Linked DNA regions of Homo sapiens: region 1 is linked to region 2. Evidence: fine-mapped expression QTL. Tissue or cell type: whole blood. Region 2 holds a variant in brackets; the other region holds the start of a gene. All regions are shown on one strand. Distances are between the middles of the regions.

What was found. PIP is the estimated chance that this variant, and not a neighbour inherited with it, causes the effect.
Region 1: SPARC starts here. The variant in region 2 is fine-mapped to the expression of SPARC in whole blood (INTERVAL, PIP 0.93).

Annotation. Positions count from the first base shown.
Region 1 is chr5:151,683,655-151,691,749 of GRCh38, reverse strand. It overlaps SPARC (secreted protein acidic and cysteine rich), which reads left to right and starts at 4,835. Exons shown (of 10, transcript NM_003118.4): 1 at 4,835-4,885. It overlaps CLMAT3 (colorectal liver metastasis associated transcript 3), which reads right to left. Exons shown (of 5, transcript NR_109873.1): 4 at 5,799-5,921; 5 at 3,840-5,368. RefSeq lists enhancers at 4,067-4,894, 4,895-5,724, 6,553-7,382.
Region 2 is chr5:152,465,817-152,473,923 of GRCh38, reverse strand. No RefSeq gene overlaps it. Among named protein-coding and RNA genes, the nearest start is that of NMUR2, 65 kb to the right of the region's middle. RefSeq lists enhancers at 561-730, 5,705-5,874, 6,925-7,094, 7,352-7,521, 8,059-8,107. The variant G/C (reference allele first, on the strand shown) is at 4,543.

The DNA.
Region 1 (8,095 bases), 780 kb after region 2:
TCCTATTTATTGCTATATCCCCAGTGCCTGATGCAAAGCACAATAAAGACTGAATGAACGAACGAGGTAGCTGATGTACTGGGGGTGTACGGAGCCTGGATGGCAGGCACATGTGGACATTTCCCAGGCAGTCCCTTGAGTTCTAAGGCTGTGGCTGGGGTGCTAGGTCAGGAGGGCAGGATCAGGGTAAAGTGAGAAGTGCCTAGAAGAGCATAGCTGGAGAGTGGTTGGAGAGGGCAGTGGGCAGGCAGCAGGGACCCCAATATACTGATGGATTGCTTTACAAGATGAAAAGCTGATTCAGCCTAATGTTGGATCAGCAACATTCTTGACTCGGGAGAGGGGTGTATGGTCTGAAGTCCACGTATGTCAGAGCTGGAGAGGAGTTGAGGGGGAAGTAGCGTGCAGTAGTCAAGCACTTGGGCTCTGGTGTCCCTTAAACCTGGATTTGAATCTCTGATTTACCATATACTTGGTGCATAAGCTTGAGCAAATTATTGATATGAACTTCATTTTCCACATTTATAAAATGGGAATAATAACAGTTCCAGATTTATAAGAGTTAAGTCAGACAATATATGCAAAGAGCTTAGCAGGTGCTTGGCACATAGTAGGTGTTTAATAAATGCTGGCTCTTATTACTACTATTCTGCTGTCCAACCTATTTTATAAATGAAAAGGTGTAGGGTCAGGTACAATGGCTCATGCTTGTAATACTAGCACATTGGGAGGCCAAGGCAGGAGGATTGCTTGAGGCCAGGAGTTCAAGACCAGCCTGGGCAACCTAGCAAGACCTTGCCTCTATTAACACAATTAAAAAGAAAGAAAGAAAAGGTGTAGTTCAGAGGGGCAGGGATGGGCCCAAAGTCACTCAGTGACTCAATAGCAGAGTGGGACTCACACCCAGGTCTATCACACCTGGCTGCGTTGTGCTTCTCTCCCTTCCTATAAAGCCCTTGGCAGGTGGCAGGAAGACCAGCCTTAGTCCTAGTGGTCTTCCTTTCTAGGTCAGAGTCATCCTTGCTTCAGAGGCTCCTGTTGCCCCAGGATGCTTTTTTTTTTTTTTTTTTTTTTTTTTGCCTTTTGAGGTGGAGTTTCACTCTTGTTGCCCAGGCTGGAGTGCAATGGTGCTATCTCAGCTCACTGCAACCTCCGCCTCCTGAGTTCAAGCAGTTCTGCCTCAGCTTCCCAAGTAGCTGGGATTACAGGCGTGAGCCACCAAGCCTGGCTAATTTTGTATTTTTAGTAGAGACGGGGTTTCACTATGTTGGTCAGCCTGGTCACCGAACTCCTGACCTCAGGTGATCCACCCACCTCTGCCTCCCAAAGTGTTGGGATTACAGGTGTGAGCCACTGCACCCAGCCATGTGCTCTTATCCTTAGATATAAAACCTACCAAGTTTTCTTTCTGGGAGTGATTCTGGCTCAGGGTGTCCCCACAGAGACCTGGAAGTGGCCCTCAGGAGGGATCTCTCTTCCAGAGCTTCAGCCCAGCCCCAACCAGACTTCCACTTCCTGAACTGAAAGCCACATGGGAACACCAGCCAAAAACTGGGAAGAGTTCCACTGGTTCATCCTCATCAGAATCATCATTTTAGTTTATGAATAAAAATACAAAGCTTCTGCTAATTTTAGTCCCATAATGCCTGGGAGCTATAGCAACCAATCCTATAAAAATATACATCTGTCCGGATGGCAAAACAGATATGTGGAGAGTCCACCAGCACCCTGTATTCAGCAGCCAAAAGCACTTGGCTTTTGAACCAGGGTGAGAGGCCTTGGGGGGTCTTTATTTATTTATTTAGAGACGGAGTCTTGCTCTGTCTCCAAGGCTAGAGTGCAATGGTGCCATCTCGGCTCACTGCAACCTCCGCCTCTTGGGTTCAAGCGATTCTCCTGCCTCAGCCTCCCATGTAGCTGGGATTACAGGCACGTGCCATGATGCCCAACTAATTTCTTTTGTATTTCTAGTAGAGACAGGGTTTTGCCATGTTGGCCAGCCTGGTGTCGAACTCCTGACCGCAGGTGATCTACCTGCCTCAGCCTCCCAAAGGGCTGGAATTACAGGAGTGAGCCACCATGCCTGGCCTTATTATTATTATTATTATTTTATTATTATTACAGACAGCATCTTGCTCTGTCACCGAGGCTAGTCTCAGGCTTCTGGCCTTAAGCAATCCTCCTGCTTCAGCCTCAGAGTAGCTGGGACTCCAGGAACATACTACTGCACCCGGCCCTTGGGGGTCATTTGGAGAAGACTCCTTCTTGGGTGTTTGTGGATTTTTCTGCAGAGAAAGTTCATTGCTTCCTTTAGGTTCTCAAAAGGACCAAACACCCTAACTTTTATATTCCACTTTAGTGGTTTGAGGGTCTCTTGGGTGTGGGGCAGTGTTCCAGGCTGGAACCCTAGTAAAAGACAACCCTCTCTTTTTTCAGATGGGCAAGTCGGAAGTTCATATATTTATTGAATAAAATATTGCAAGCCAGCTTTGTGTGGGGCACTGGTCAACATGCTGGGAACAAAGCAGTAAACAGACATGTGAAGTCCCTGCTCTCACCAAGCTTCTGTCTAGTTGGGGAAACAAATGGTTTCTGAGAATGACAGGTGATGGGGAGGAAATAAAACAGTGTAAGGCGATGAACTGTGCCTGTGAGAGAGGCAAGTAGATTGAGTGGCCCTAAGGAGGTGACATTAGAATAGGCACAGGAAAATCAGGTGGAAGAGTGTCTCTGGCAGAGGTAAGAGCAAATGCAAAGATACTGGGCATGGTGGCTCAGACTTGTAATCCCAACACTTAGAGAGGCCAAGGCGGGCGGATCACTTGTGGTCAGGAGTTCGAGACCAGTCTGGCCAACATGGTGAAACCCTGTCTCTACTAAAAATACAAAAATTAGCCTGGTGTGGTGGTGCATGCCTGTAATCCCAGCTTCTTGAGAGGCTGAGGCAGCAGAATCACTTGAACCCAGGAGGTGGAGGTTGCAGTGAGTTGAGATTGCGCCACAGCCCTCCAGCCTGGGCAACAAAGTGAGAGTCTGTCTCAAAAAAAAAAAAAAAATCCTGGGGTGGGAGAAGCTTTGGGGTAGTTGAAGGACTGGAAGGAAGTTGGCATGGCTGGAGCAGCGTGGGCACAGAGGACAGTGGTAGGAGGAGAGAATGGCAAGAGAGACAGGGGCCACAGCGGATGGAAGTGTATCATGAGGGTGTTCTCTGCCTTCTTCCTTTCCATGGTATTCAAACCCAACCCATGCTTCCAGGTCCACCTCTTTCAGGAATCCACCAATCTGAAGCCCTGGGATAAGCCTTAGAGTCTGTACCACTCATGTAAGTGGGTGTATGTGTAAGGCACAACCTTTCAGCAAGATCCAAAGCTCCTTGAATAGTGAGTTATCTCGATTGATTGTTCACAGTCACAGATTGAATTCCTTGTACTTTTTTTCCCTTCTCAGTTCTGCACTTAACTCGTCTAAAAAAATTAAAAAAGAATTTAAGAAACCACAAAGCTAAGCTGGGTGCGGTGGCTCACGCCTGTAATCCTAGCACTTTGGGAAGCCAAGGCATTCGGATTGCCCAAGCTCAGGAGTTCGAGACCAGCCTGGGCAACATGTTGAAACCCCATTTCTACTAAAAATACAATAAATTAGCTGGGTGTTGTGGCATGTGCGCCTGTAATCCCAGCTACTCTGGAGGCTGAGGCGCGATAATTGCTTGAACCCGGGAGGCAGAGGTTGCAGTGAGCCGAAATCATACCACTGCACTCCAGCCTGGGCGACAGAGTGAGTGAGACTCTGTCTCAAAACAAAACAAAACAAACAAACAAAAAAACCGGAAACCACAAAACTTTTTGAGGACAAGGACCAGGTATTTATTAATTCTCATACCTCCCAGAGTGTTAGGCACAAAATAAACATTCAACCAAGACCTGTTGCACTGAGCAGTTCATATATAACAGGAGTGACCCAAGTTGAAACGTAGAATCAGCCCTCTCATACCACTTTTTGCCAGGTGATCATAGGCAAGTTACTTAGCATCTATGTTTCCTTATTATTAAAATGGTCATAATTACAATGCCTAAGATAAGGGGTTGCTGTGAAGATTATTAAATCCTCAGTAAACTTTGGCTATTGTTACTCCTATGATTATCATCAATATCATCAATTACCTTATCTGTTCAATACTGGTGGCACAGGTCCACCAGCTAGATGTCTAATCCCTTATGTGTCTATTAGTGGTACAAGTGGAGTTTGAGTGGGATTTTTTTTTTTAAGACCAGTTCCAAATCATCAAGGATGATACCACTAGTAGCAGCTTGTCTTGTCTGTACAGTGGTAAGTCCTGGCCTTGCCTTTGTGGCAAATACAACCCCCTTGAATTGCTTGGCCCTTCTCAGCATTGCCTAATATTAGGGAGGACTCCTGTAAAGCTCACTGGTTAGAAGATCAAGACACTTGGGCCTGGTTCTGCCCCTGGGGGCCATTGGGTAATTCCTTGCAGTCTCCAGGCCTCACTTGCCCTCTGAACAAGAAAGAGGCTGTTCTGGGTCATCCCTCCAGGCCTGTCCAGCCCTGGCACTCTGTGAGTCGGTTTAGGCAGCAGCCCCGGAACAGATGAGGCAGGCAGGGTTGGGACGTTTGGTCAGGACAGCCCACCGCAAAAAGAGGAGGAAAGAAATGAAAGACAGAGACAGCTTTGGCTATGGGAGAAGGAGGAGGCCGGGGGAAGGAGGAGACAGGAGGAGGAGGGACCACGGGGTGGAGGGGAGATAGACCCAGCCCAGAGCTCTGAGTGGTTTCCTGTTGCCTGTCTCTAAACCCCTCCACATTCCCGCGGTCCTTCAGACTGCCCGGAGAGCGCGCTCTGCCTGCCGCCTGCCTGCCTGCCACTGAGGTATGTGTGACCCCCGCCCAGCCTTTCCCTTCTATAGTTGCACCAACCCCGACACCCCCGTTCACGCCGTCAGCTCGTGTGCAAGGGAGGGAAGCTCTGCTGAGGATGCGCCTCTCCTCCCGGCTCCATCACGGCTCCCCTTAAGAGCATGGCCCTCGGTCCTGTCTGCCTGTTGCTTTTCAGAAGGTGGACTCACTGTGTAACTTTGTCTTCCCTTACAGGTTTACAGAAAATAATCTCACTATGTCTTCGGGGGAGCATTTTCTCACTCTCTGTTTTTCTCTGTGTCTGTCTCTGGTTTCAGAGGCTGCCTGCCTGTCCTCTTTGCTCCCTTTGCAAATGTGGCAGCCTCCTCCTTTCCTGGGAATCTGATCCCATCACAGCTGCCACAGGGACCTGGCCAGCAACCGGAGTCTGTCCTCCAGATCTCGGTCAGGGGTTCTGTTTTCCAAAAGGGACTTTGCACGAACAATCAGTTGATCTCTGAAAGGCAAAGGGGGAGGCTTCACCATTAATCCACACCTCTGGGAAGCCTTCTGTTTTCCTCTAATTCTCCTCACTCCCAAACACCACCTTCCGTCCCCCCAATACACAAATTTCAGCACCATTCTGCCTGAAATGGCACCATCACAACCTCAGTCTTGGGTTAGGTGTTGTTCCTGTCCTGAGTTCCTTGGGATGGTAAACACAGGCAGTAGCCCTTAGTTTATCTAGATCTGAAAACCCAGACATCAGATATCGTCAACCAAGACATGGGTGTAATGGGAGGTGGAGTGTGCTGGGGGAGATATTCTCAGAAGGGGGAAAGGGGGAAGGGAAGAGGGAGAGAATTCCAGGGTCCCCTTCCGTAATCCACCCAAGACTAGTGTCCAGCCTGTCAGGGTGTCAGTTCTTCTTCAGACAAATCCACTACCTTTCTTCGCCGCCACTGGCTCCGTGAACTGGCTGTCAAGTGGACTTCCTTAGGGAAAGGGACTCCAAGGACTCCAAGGGAAGGGGGGCACTGGGATGAGTTATGTCTTCCAGGATTCCCAGTCTGCCCAAAAGGGAACAGAGAGGCATGCATTTTCCTCAGGAAAGGACAGCATTTTTTTCATTAGAGAAAATGTTTTCTCTAGTAATGCTTTAGAGTTAAATTTCTATACGCCCCAAGTGCTGGTGGTTTAGTGAGAAGCAAAGCAGAAGTAGGACACAGGCTTCGGGCATGCATTTTATGTGTGATCTTAGGTAAGTGTCTCCCCTGGATTTAGTGCCCCATCTGTAATGAAAGAAGGCTGAAACTGAAGGCTCTTTGGGGTGCTTTGTGTCCTCTAAAATATTCAAAGGAAGATTTCTTAACCAGGGTCTATGGAGTGGTCTTTGAATGGGCCTCAAGCCATCTCTAAGCCCCTAAAAATTGTATGCACTGTGTGTGTGTGTGTGTGTGTGTGTGTGTGTGTGTGAGAGAGAGAGGGAGAGAGAGAGAGAGAGAGGATGAATATGGGTGGTCACAGCTTTCAGCTTTAAGATATTCTCAAATGGATTAGAGGGCATGACGTGGGGATGGAGTGAGGACTGGTAACAAATGTGTGTATTTGCTGGAGGATGAAGCCTTCTGAAAAGGGAGTGGTTGAGGAAAGAGAGAGTTAACTCTCAGCTATCAGCTGCCACATCGACATAGCCTAGAGCAAAGAGGGGGAGGGAGGAGAAGAAGGGGGTTGCCTGGAGAAGGAATCAACTTTTGAAACTTTCTCCAAGTCCCACCCACCAGAAGGCTCTTCTCTGCCTGACTCACTCTCCGAGGAATGCGAGTTGCCACGGTAACCTTTTTTTCAGGGTCTCTGCCTGCTGGCTGGAGGGGACCCTTGAAACCCTCTAAGAACATCAGTCTGAACGTACCCCACCCCCAAATTCAAGGCCTGCAGCAAATTCTAGGCCCTGCCCTTGTGATCTCTCAGGATTCCGGGGAAGCCTTGGGCCATGATAATCTCCTTGCAAGGGTGTTTGAAGACCTGGGTTTTAGCTCTGGCTGTGCCCTGAAGGTACCATTTGACCTTGAACTAATACTTCTTTCTGGGCCCCATTCCCTCTACAGTTAAAGAACAGTAACAGCAGCCACCTCTAGGGGGTAGATAGTGTGTAGAAGAAATGGGATAATGCACAGGGAAGCACTTTGCGAATTGTGGCATTCCCTCATAATGCAAAGGGTTTTAGAACTGATGGATTAAAGGCATCCAAAGACCTAGTGAAATCATTCTCAGCTTTTTTTTTTTTTTTTTTTCCTGGCAGCTCCATCATCTTGGGGTTTGTATAGAACTTTCCTTTACTAGAAGTACTGACAGGAAAAATTTTAAAATCATAATATTGTTTATCTTCATTTTGATTTGGGGAACTTCTTGTGTATTTCCCAAGACTGTTGTGCCCTCTATGTAGGAAAAGCATTGGCCAAGGGTGAAAAAAAAAAAAAAAAGTGTGTTCTAACTCCCAGTGCCTGACATTGGGAAAGACACTTCCTCTCTTGAGGCTGCAGTTTCCCAAACTGTTAAATAGAGTTTCTAAGCTAGATGATTTCCCAGGCACCCTTCTAACTCTGAAGTCCTATAAACCTAAATCCCAGATACCGCTTTTATTCAAAGGAATAGCTTGCCTGCATTTTTAACACCGCCTTACTGCACCCCCAGTTGAAAAGAAAACAAGAAAAGATGGGCTAGGGGATCTTGAGTTGCATAACCATCATGCTGTAATCCTTATCCATCTGTAGAGATTTGTCAATCAACAGTGTGGCTGGGGTTTGCTATTCATGAGAGCAGCTTTCCTTGCTGAAAACAAGCTATAAATAAGAAAGAATGGTGAAGGAAAGGAAAGAGCTGAGGATGTGAGGTAAACAGTAGAATATTTGGCTTTTGAAGTTGTTTATGTAGGTAGATAAATATGCAGAGATAAACAGGGACAGGTACAAACCCATAGGGATGAAGAGTATAAACATCGATTTCATCAACAGGCACCCACTGGCTCAGCTAAAAATAAGTGCCTCATTACAGGAGCAGACACAGAAAGTCATTCACTCACACACCTCTTCCTGGATGACAATGATTTACAGACAAGTTCCAGGAATATATCTCAATGAATGTGAAAATTCTGACCCTCGCCTATTACAGGCTGAAACAGACAGATGCTAAGTCAGGCTGTATGTAACTTACACAGACATGCCATCAGGTATACAAACACACA
Region 2 (8,107 bases):
GTGCACAGAATCCTGTTTGAGAATCATTATATTATGGTATTTCAAGGGAAAAAGGGTTTTCAGGGCTATAATCATCAAGCAGTTCTCATAAAAGATTTGCTTCATGTTCCACCTGACTTCGATTGATGATCAGTTAATAAGAAACAAGACTTGCAAAAGCAATGGTTTACTTAAGATTGCTATATATGTTTGCTATAAGAAATTATGTATTTGTTTACTTGAGACATAAAATGGTACAGAAAATTGAAGTCACTCATTTTGGCTGCAGATTAACGCAACAGCCCTGTGATACTGAACCTACTACTCTTTAAACTCACCAGACTCATGTGGATGAAACCATCCTGAGTGGATTCTCTTAGGCAGAAGGCATGCAACTGATTCACCCCTACAGCTGTGGAAATGTCTTTAAGTTGCCTACGGTAGACTCATAACACAATGCTAAGGCCCATTTCTCACAAACTCACTTTCTTCCCTTCTCCTCAAACTTTGCAGGTAGCAGCAAGATTTAATTCTCTCAAATTTTGCTCATCATGGGCATTGTGGTTGTCTCCTCACTGCACATTCTCCTTCCTTCAGCACATTTGAAGCTCTCCCCTGCCATCTATGAGCTCTGGAAGAAGCCTACCTCTTTGTATAACTTAGACATGAGCTAATCAGCAACTCAGGGGTAAACTAATGAGCATGTTCTCATCCCTGATCAACCAAAACCAGACCAATCAGAAGTAAGGCATGATTTGCTGGAACTTTGAAGAAAACAACTTCCTTGTTCTTACAGTCAGAGCTTAAGGAGCTGCCTTCTCTCCCTGTGTATGCATTAGGAAGCATGCGTCTCCAGGAATTGTTGGCAGTCCTGTTTCAACTATAAAAAAAAAGCTGGTACTGCATAGGGCTAAGGGGGAAAATGAAGGGATGTAGATGGATCCTTGATGGTATTATTGAAATGCTGAATCAAACTAGTTCTGAAATTCACTTAATCTCTAGACTTGCCAGTTACATGAGCCAATCAATCTCCTTTATTAATTCGAACTAAGTTTTTTTCTTATTTGTAGCCCTAACACATCTGAAATGACATTGATCACTCCATTAAGGAGGGCAATTTGACAATGTTGAGAAGCCCTGAAAGTGTATGTACCTTCTGAGCCAGCAGTTTCTCTAAGAATTTATCCTAAGGAAATAGTTGAACAGCTATAAAGATATTTATATGCACAAGCTGATTCATGATATTCTTTAGCACAATACTCTCAATGATCTAAATTTCTAGTGTGGCTAATTAAGTAAATTGGAATATAAAGATACTACTGAATACTATCCAGCCTTGGAAACTGATAAACAAGGCAGCTGCACATTTGTCAGTGAAAGCTGAATCAAATTAGTTGATTTGACTCTACCTCTAAAGGAGGAGTGTGGTAGGCTTTTTCCAGAGCTCATAGATGGCAGGGGAGTGGGGAAAAAAAAACAGGTAATAATGGGCTTTATTAATCCATTTTTATTAAAAAAAAGTACAATAATGATGCTAATGCCTTTTTGAGCTTTAAGTATCAAGAGCTTTGCAAACATTATTGCAGAACTTCTCAGTCCTCCTGGCTGCATCATAGTGACCTAGATAAATCACTAAAAACAACAACAGAAATAAACCTGCCAAGCCAAGGCAGCACAATTACATCAGGCTCTCTGGGGAGGTGGGATGCAAATATTGGAATTTTTCAAAGATCTTGGATGATTCTAATGTGCAGTGAGGATTGAAAATCATGGTATTTTCTCTTTTATCCTCAGAACAATACTGTGTTATTTGTATCATCACCTTCCTTGTATGGATGAACAAGTCTCAACAAGGTTAAATAACTTGCCTCCTATAACATAACAGAGCCTTGACTCTACCCAGGGCTGTCTGACCTTAAAAACCATGATCTTGACAATGACATCAAATTGTCTTTTAGTAAACTAGAGTGATTATGCAAGGAAACTGGGTGCAAAGCAAAAGGAAAAGACCAGAAGATTTCCAAAAACATAGTCGAGTCTCCAAGTGGTAGAATTACAAATACTTTGTAATTTATTTGTTTACAAATATACATGCTGTTTTAGCTGATCAATATGCCTTTGTGTTGTAAATATTTGCACACGTGTGTATGTTGTATATACACATTATGTCATGATTACTGCTCTGTTGCATCTCACTTCTTCAAAACCTCAGCTATGCCTTTGCAGCACATCCACTGTGCTGCCATCCAGAACACCACCCCAACTTCTCTGGAGATAATCATGCTATTGCATAATGGGCTTATTCAAGAAGTTCAGGTAGCTCACCCGCTCCCACCCCACTTGGCTCCAGACTCCTCCCTACTTTAACAGAGCAATTCCATCTTCCATGCTATTTCTGAATATCAAACTGCCCATATTCCCAGTTTATCTTAAAACTCTAGCTCTGAGTTCAAAGGTAACATTTCAACATATTAGAAATAAGCATCAAAAATCACAGCCACCCAAGGATACTGAAGCTTACAAATGAACTGAAATTAACAAAAAATCATATGTGAATCACAAGCTAGCTTAAAAACTTAAAATACACCTATTTGAAATGTTAATATAGTCAAACAATTTATTCTGACATCATTTAAAAACAAAAGTTTTACTGAACTTTCGAAAAGTTGATTTAGCAAAATTGTGTTTTAGGTGAATATAGTTTCAGACAATCCCTCCACTGCAATTTCATCCTGGTCTGCTGAGTAAATATAGAATGTGCTTTCTTAAGGAGATGAACACTCAGTTGAAACAGAGATGCACTATTTTCTGATAATGTAGTTCTCAGAGTGCTTGTTTTGACTGTCAACACTACCACAACCACATATATTGTCCTTAAAATTTTTCTCATCTGTATTACTCAAGAAGCCCATTTTTTATAAATACAGACCTGTGAATTTGGCTCACAGGGTAGAAAAATTCACAGAGCAAAGCTTACTACTAGAAAAAGAACTCCAGGACTCAGGTCCCAGACCCTCAATCCAGGACAGTAGATGAATTAATTTTCTACAGCTGCTGCAACAAATTGCCATCGACTTAGTGGCTTTCACACACACACACACACACACACACACACGTATTATAGTTCTGAAGGTCAGAAGTCTGATAGGGGTCTCACTAAGCTGTGTCTCTTTCTGGAAGCTCTAGGAAAGAATCTTATTTCTTGCTTTTTGCAGCTTCTAGGAACTTCTGGCATTGCTTGGCTTCTGGCCCCTTCCTCCATCTTTAACCAAAGCCAGAGACATGGAGCTAAGTCCCTCCCATGCTGCAGTCTCTCTGGTTCTCTCTTCCATAGTCACATCTCCCTCTGACCCCAGGTAGGAAAGGTTTTCTGTAACACTTGGAAGAACTCATGTGATTAGATTGAGCTCACTCAGAAAATCCAGGGTCATCTTCCCATCTCAGGTCCTTAATTTAATTGTAGCTGCAAAATTTCTTTTGTCATGTAAGGCAACATATTCACAACTTCTGAGAATCAGGATGTGGGCATCTTTGTGGGGAGGCACTAGTCTGCCTGTCACAGTAAGTGTCAGTATGATTTTCTGTCCTAGCACAGCTGAGAGATAGGACATTCTCGTTAACAGCAACTTGCCAAGAAAATGACTCCCAGGCATAGAAATGCTCACCCAACGAAGTCCATAAGAATGGGGGTAGAAGTGAGAAAGAAAAACCATTTTACAAAGCGATTTCTTTAATCACTGATGCAGTCTATTTTAGAAATAGTATAAACCCTTAACACTGTAACTATACCAGCATTTTTTCTTGCATATTCTCATATAATACTTCTATAAATTATACGCAAGGGACACGTTTTACTGGTACAGATACACAAGAAAGCAAGATTAGGAGTATTTCTATAGAAAAAATATATGAATTTTCATGTAGGAGCTCAGCAAATGAGAATTTACAGGTTGTACTTTCATATACTATTTATTTCCGATCTTGTAGGAAATCTGAACTTTACTGGCAAGAAAATGCATGTCCTTAAATGGGTAAAAAATAACTGGTAACTCAAATTCCTGAGCGCAAAAAAGTCGAGCCTCTAAGTCAAATAGTCCTTTCCATTAGTAAGTTGCTCAAGGCAATGCCACAGCCCTAAATCAAGAGATCTGGCAATGCCTAACCACAGGTGAAAACCTTTTATCTCTGACATCTTCTCTTTGCATAGCCCTTCGACACAAAGACCCTTGGCCGGCACTGACCACCCTGACAGAGAAGTGGCATTTACCTTCAATGCCCTGAGCTGTCCTTCCTTTTCCCTCCCTGCAAATATCCAATCCTTCCACCCTCTCTCCACACTTCTTTAAAAGATAAAGAACTGCACTCTTTGTCTTTACTGAATAAACATTGTATTGTAAGCCAGGCCCTCAACTAGCTGGTTTGTTCCTCATAGACCCTGTAGCCGAAATGTGGATGGCTCTCATTAGAAGTCGAGGAATGTGTAGCCTCTGTACACACTACCTCTTCGTGTACACACTACCTCTTCATGCACAGATAAACGAGAAACAGCTAAAAAGTTACCTA[G/C]TTAGACCTTTTCATAAGTTTTGATTAAAATATACAAATATTATTTTAAGGCATTTAGATCAAATTTTCATGTGCATGTTTTAGCCAAGTTTTAAGGAATAAAAAAGAAAGGTTGATATCAGTCTCTTCATTTAGTCTATTTAATCTTTATATTTATTCCTATGGCTACATAGAACCACTCTAGTTTTAACTCCAGGGTGCTTTCAATACAGTGTACTCTCCCTAGCATTAGTTTTATTCCTGGGCACAATTTCTAAGGGGCAAATTGATTGCTGTTTCTGGTACATCATAGAAAAAAGGTCACAGCAAGCTACCATCTTCATTGGCAAGCATTAAGTTAAATTGTTAATTTGCCCCATCCAGAACACTTGTACAGAGTTTAGTTGGAAATGAAAGCTTCTGATTTTGGATCTTGATCTTTGTCAATAATCTTTCAGTCTTTTTTGCTATTTCCTCTGTTCCTAAGCCAAACAAACAAACAAACAAACAAAAAACCCCAAACCAAAGACAAATAAAAAAACTACAAAGCCATTGGGCTAGGGAGTGCCTGACTTACAAGTTAAATGTTTCTTGGATTAATTTAGTAGTTATTAAAGTGGAGTAGCTCTTCATTTCCCTTTGACTGTATCACTTAATGAGAATTTGTTCAGTAAAATAAATCTTTCCAGGGTTCAGGGAGCAGACATGTCCACAGTTATCCTCCCCAAAAACCTGCATCTAGGTTCTTCAGGGACTTTATCTTTTTGCTCTTATTAGCACAACACGCAAAAATAATGTTTTTATCTAATAATATAGGTGTGTAGCTTAAAAGGCAAACTGTATGACAACAGCACCAACACCAGTTGCCTTCTGCTTGACTATGCCACATAATGAATTCCCACTCAAGATAGCAATGGCCTAGGTGACTTAATTCTCCAAACAAATGAATTCCTTGATCACTCATCAAAAGGTAGAGGGAAAAGGTATTTTAATGTGCTCCATCAAGTCAGGGTGAGGGAACTCAGGAAACTTCTGAGCAAAGTTTTCTTGCTAATAAAGATATAATTCCCACAGAAGAAATCTTTTTGGTGACACAGTCTGGACCATATTTATTAACCCTGTTTCTAACATTACCCCTGCTGTCTGCCTGTCCCCCTCACCCACTTTTTATTTTTTGAGATGAGGTCTCACTCTATCACCCAGGCTGGAGTGCAGTGGTGCAATCATGACACTCTGCAGCCTTGACCTCCCATGCTCAGGTGATTCACCCACCTCAGCTCCCTGAGTAGCTGGGACTATAGACACATGCCACCTTGCCTGGCTTATTTTATTTTGTTGGTAAAGACCGGGTTTTGCCACATTGCCCAGGCTGGTCTTGAACTCCTGGACTCAAGTGATTCGACCATCTCAGCCTCCCAAAGTGCTGGGATTGTAGGCACCATGGCTTATCATGGGCCATCACCCACTTTTTAAAACTGTTTCTGTGGAACATCTGACTATGCATACATCTCTTCGGATGGTGGTTTGCAGGTAATAAAGTTTCAAGTTTATGGAAGCAAATGTATCTTTGTACTTATTCATTTACAATCAACCTCTCACACCAACTCAAAAAAGGAAGGCCCTTTCTTATCTCTCCTGCAAGAAGGAGTTAAAGAAGTATCTTCTGCTTTCCCCCTTTACTTCACGAGAATAGAGACAGAAGAGTCAGCCCTGGCTATCACTTATTTCCATAAGTCACTTCTGCCCATTTGCTAGTCATAACGCAGTTCTTCTTGGAATACAGATACAGTGTTGTCTCTCCAACTTCTATATTGTCTCATGCAGATTTGCAAGAATATTTTCAATTGAGGATTCATAATGCATTCAGGTCACAGTCATCACAATCTTTCCCCCTGCAACAGCTTGCTTTATAGTTTTCCAATCTTCTCTGCAAGTGTATGAGTTGTTACCTCTTGAGTATTCATCTTTAAGATATTTCCTTCTCTTGTCATGTCCTTCCTTCACGGACACTCTAAGTCTTGCCTATTTCTTTTTAATCCCCCTCGGCCTCCTTGTCATTGAGAAAATACTGGCTAGAATGCCAGGCCCCTCTTTCTCTTCCTCTCCCCCAGGTCTGTCTCAAATGTTTCATAAAATTTTGGTCCACAACCACCTCAGATTATGCTACAGAGATGGCCAGGCCTTCTGCCAACCCATAGCCCATTTGCTTCAACAATTTTTTGGTTCAAAAGTGAAAATTTTCTATAGAGTCAGCAAGAACTTAGTTTCCTTCATACAGCCAAGATGGATGAGTTGAACCTGAACTCAGGGTGCATTTTCACTCAAATCTCTGTTGGCATCAAGCTCCTTGGCAATTTTTTCCATTATCACAGTCAAAATAAATGAGCATCTTTTAAATTCTAGGTCTTGCAATTTGTAGGGGAATTAGGTAAGAATCGTCTCCATTCAGGAGATATCAGAACAGTCACAGTTGGACCCAACATAAGACGACTTCTTGTTTTCTTATCACTTAGTTTCTACTCATAACTGAAAGGCAGCCATTTGAACTTACAGCATCCATGATACCCCCAGCTAATACCTTCCTCTTTCCCAGTCCTCTATGAATTGTAGGTTTAGTCTGATTTCAAGCTTCAGTGAAATGCCCAATCTTCCTGCCAGTGGAATCTGGGAGCAACGTACCATGGTCTGCCTGAAAGACCTACAGCTACAGCTTGATCTTCAAAACTCGGCTAACAAACTTTCAGGCAGCTACCTCAAGGAAAGGAGGGCTCCATCAAAGACAACATTAAGCCCTTGGATCATCCTTGCTTGCCACTGTCTTCCCAGCTTCCCAAAACTGACACCAGATGTCACTAGTCAAAACTTTAACATGTGTCAGCACAAGGCAAGATAATTTCAACTCCTCCAAGATTCCTGGCTATTTAGCAGGAATGGAAGACTTGGCTGACACTGCTAAGACCAACAGCTTCCAGAAACCAATAGAAATAAGTCCAATAATGCTATACTGTAGATACCTTTGCTTCCTTGGGTCCAGGTTCACCGGTGCTGCCTGTGCCCCTAGAGTGGAGTTGACATGTTTCCATTTTAGGGAGGTCAGACTCAGACAATCCCTGAGTACTTCACTCTCTCAGCAAAGTCCAAGAGAGGCCACTGGTTGCAGTAATCTCTGTGCTTATTAATAGCAGATGACCTTGTACTCTAGACCTGTTTGTGTGTCTGAAAGACACAGGCAATTAGAAAAATTTCTATAATTCTGTTCACTTAACACTTCCCACTGCAGATTGAGTCTGCACCTAGAGACCTTCAACACAATTCCTCATGCCTGCCAAAGGTGGTTGGGCTGTCTTGGTCAGACCTCAGCGTCAGAGAGCCCAGAACAAGATGGACCATTTCTTACCCACACACTAGGAGAGGACGCACCAGTCTCAGGCCAGGAGTTCTTGGTAGAGACCTCAGAATGCATCTTCCCCATCTCGACTGTAAGGGGAGAAGGTGGGCTGTGAGTTTCCAGGTCACTTACAGCAGGTGTGGCGAGGGCTGGGGATTGCTTCAGGGAAACACCATGCACCCTAATGGAATGATGGGA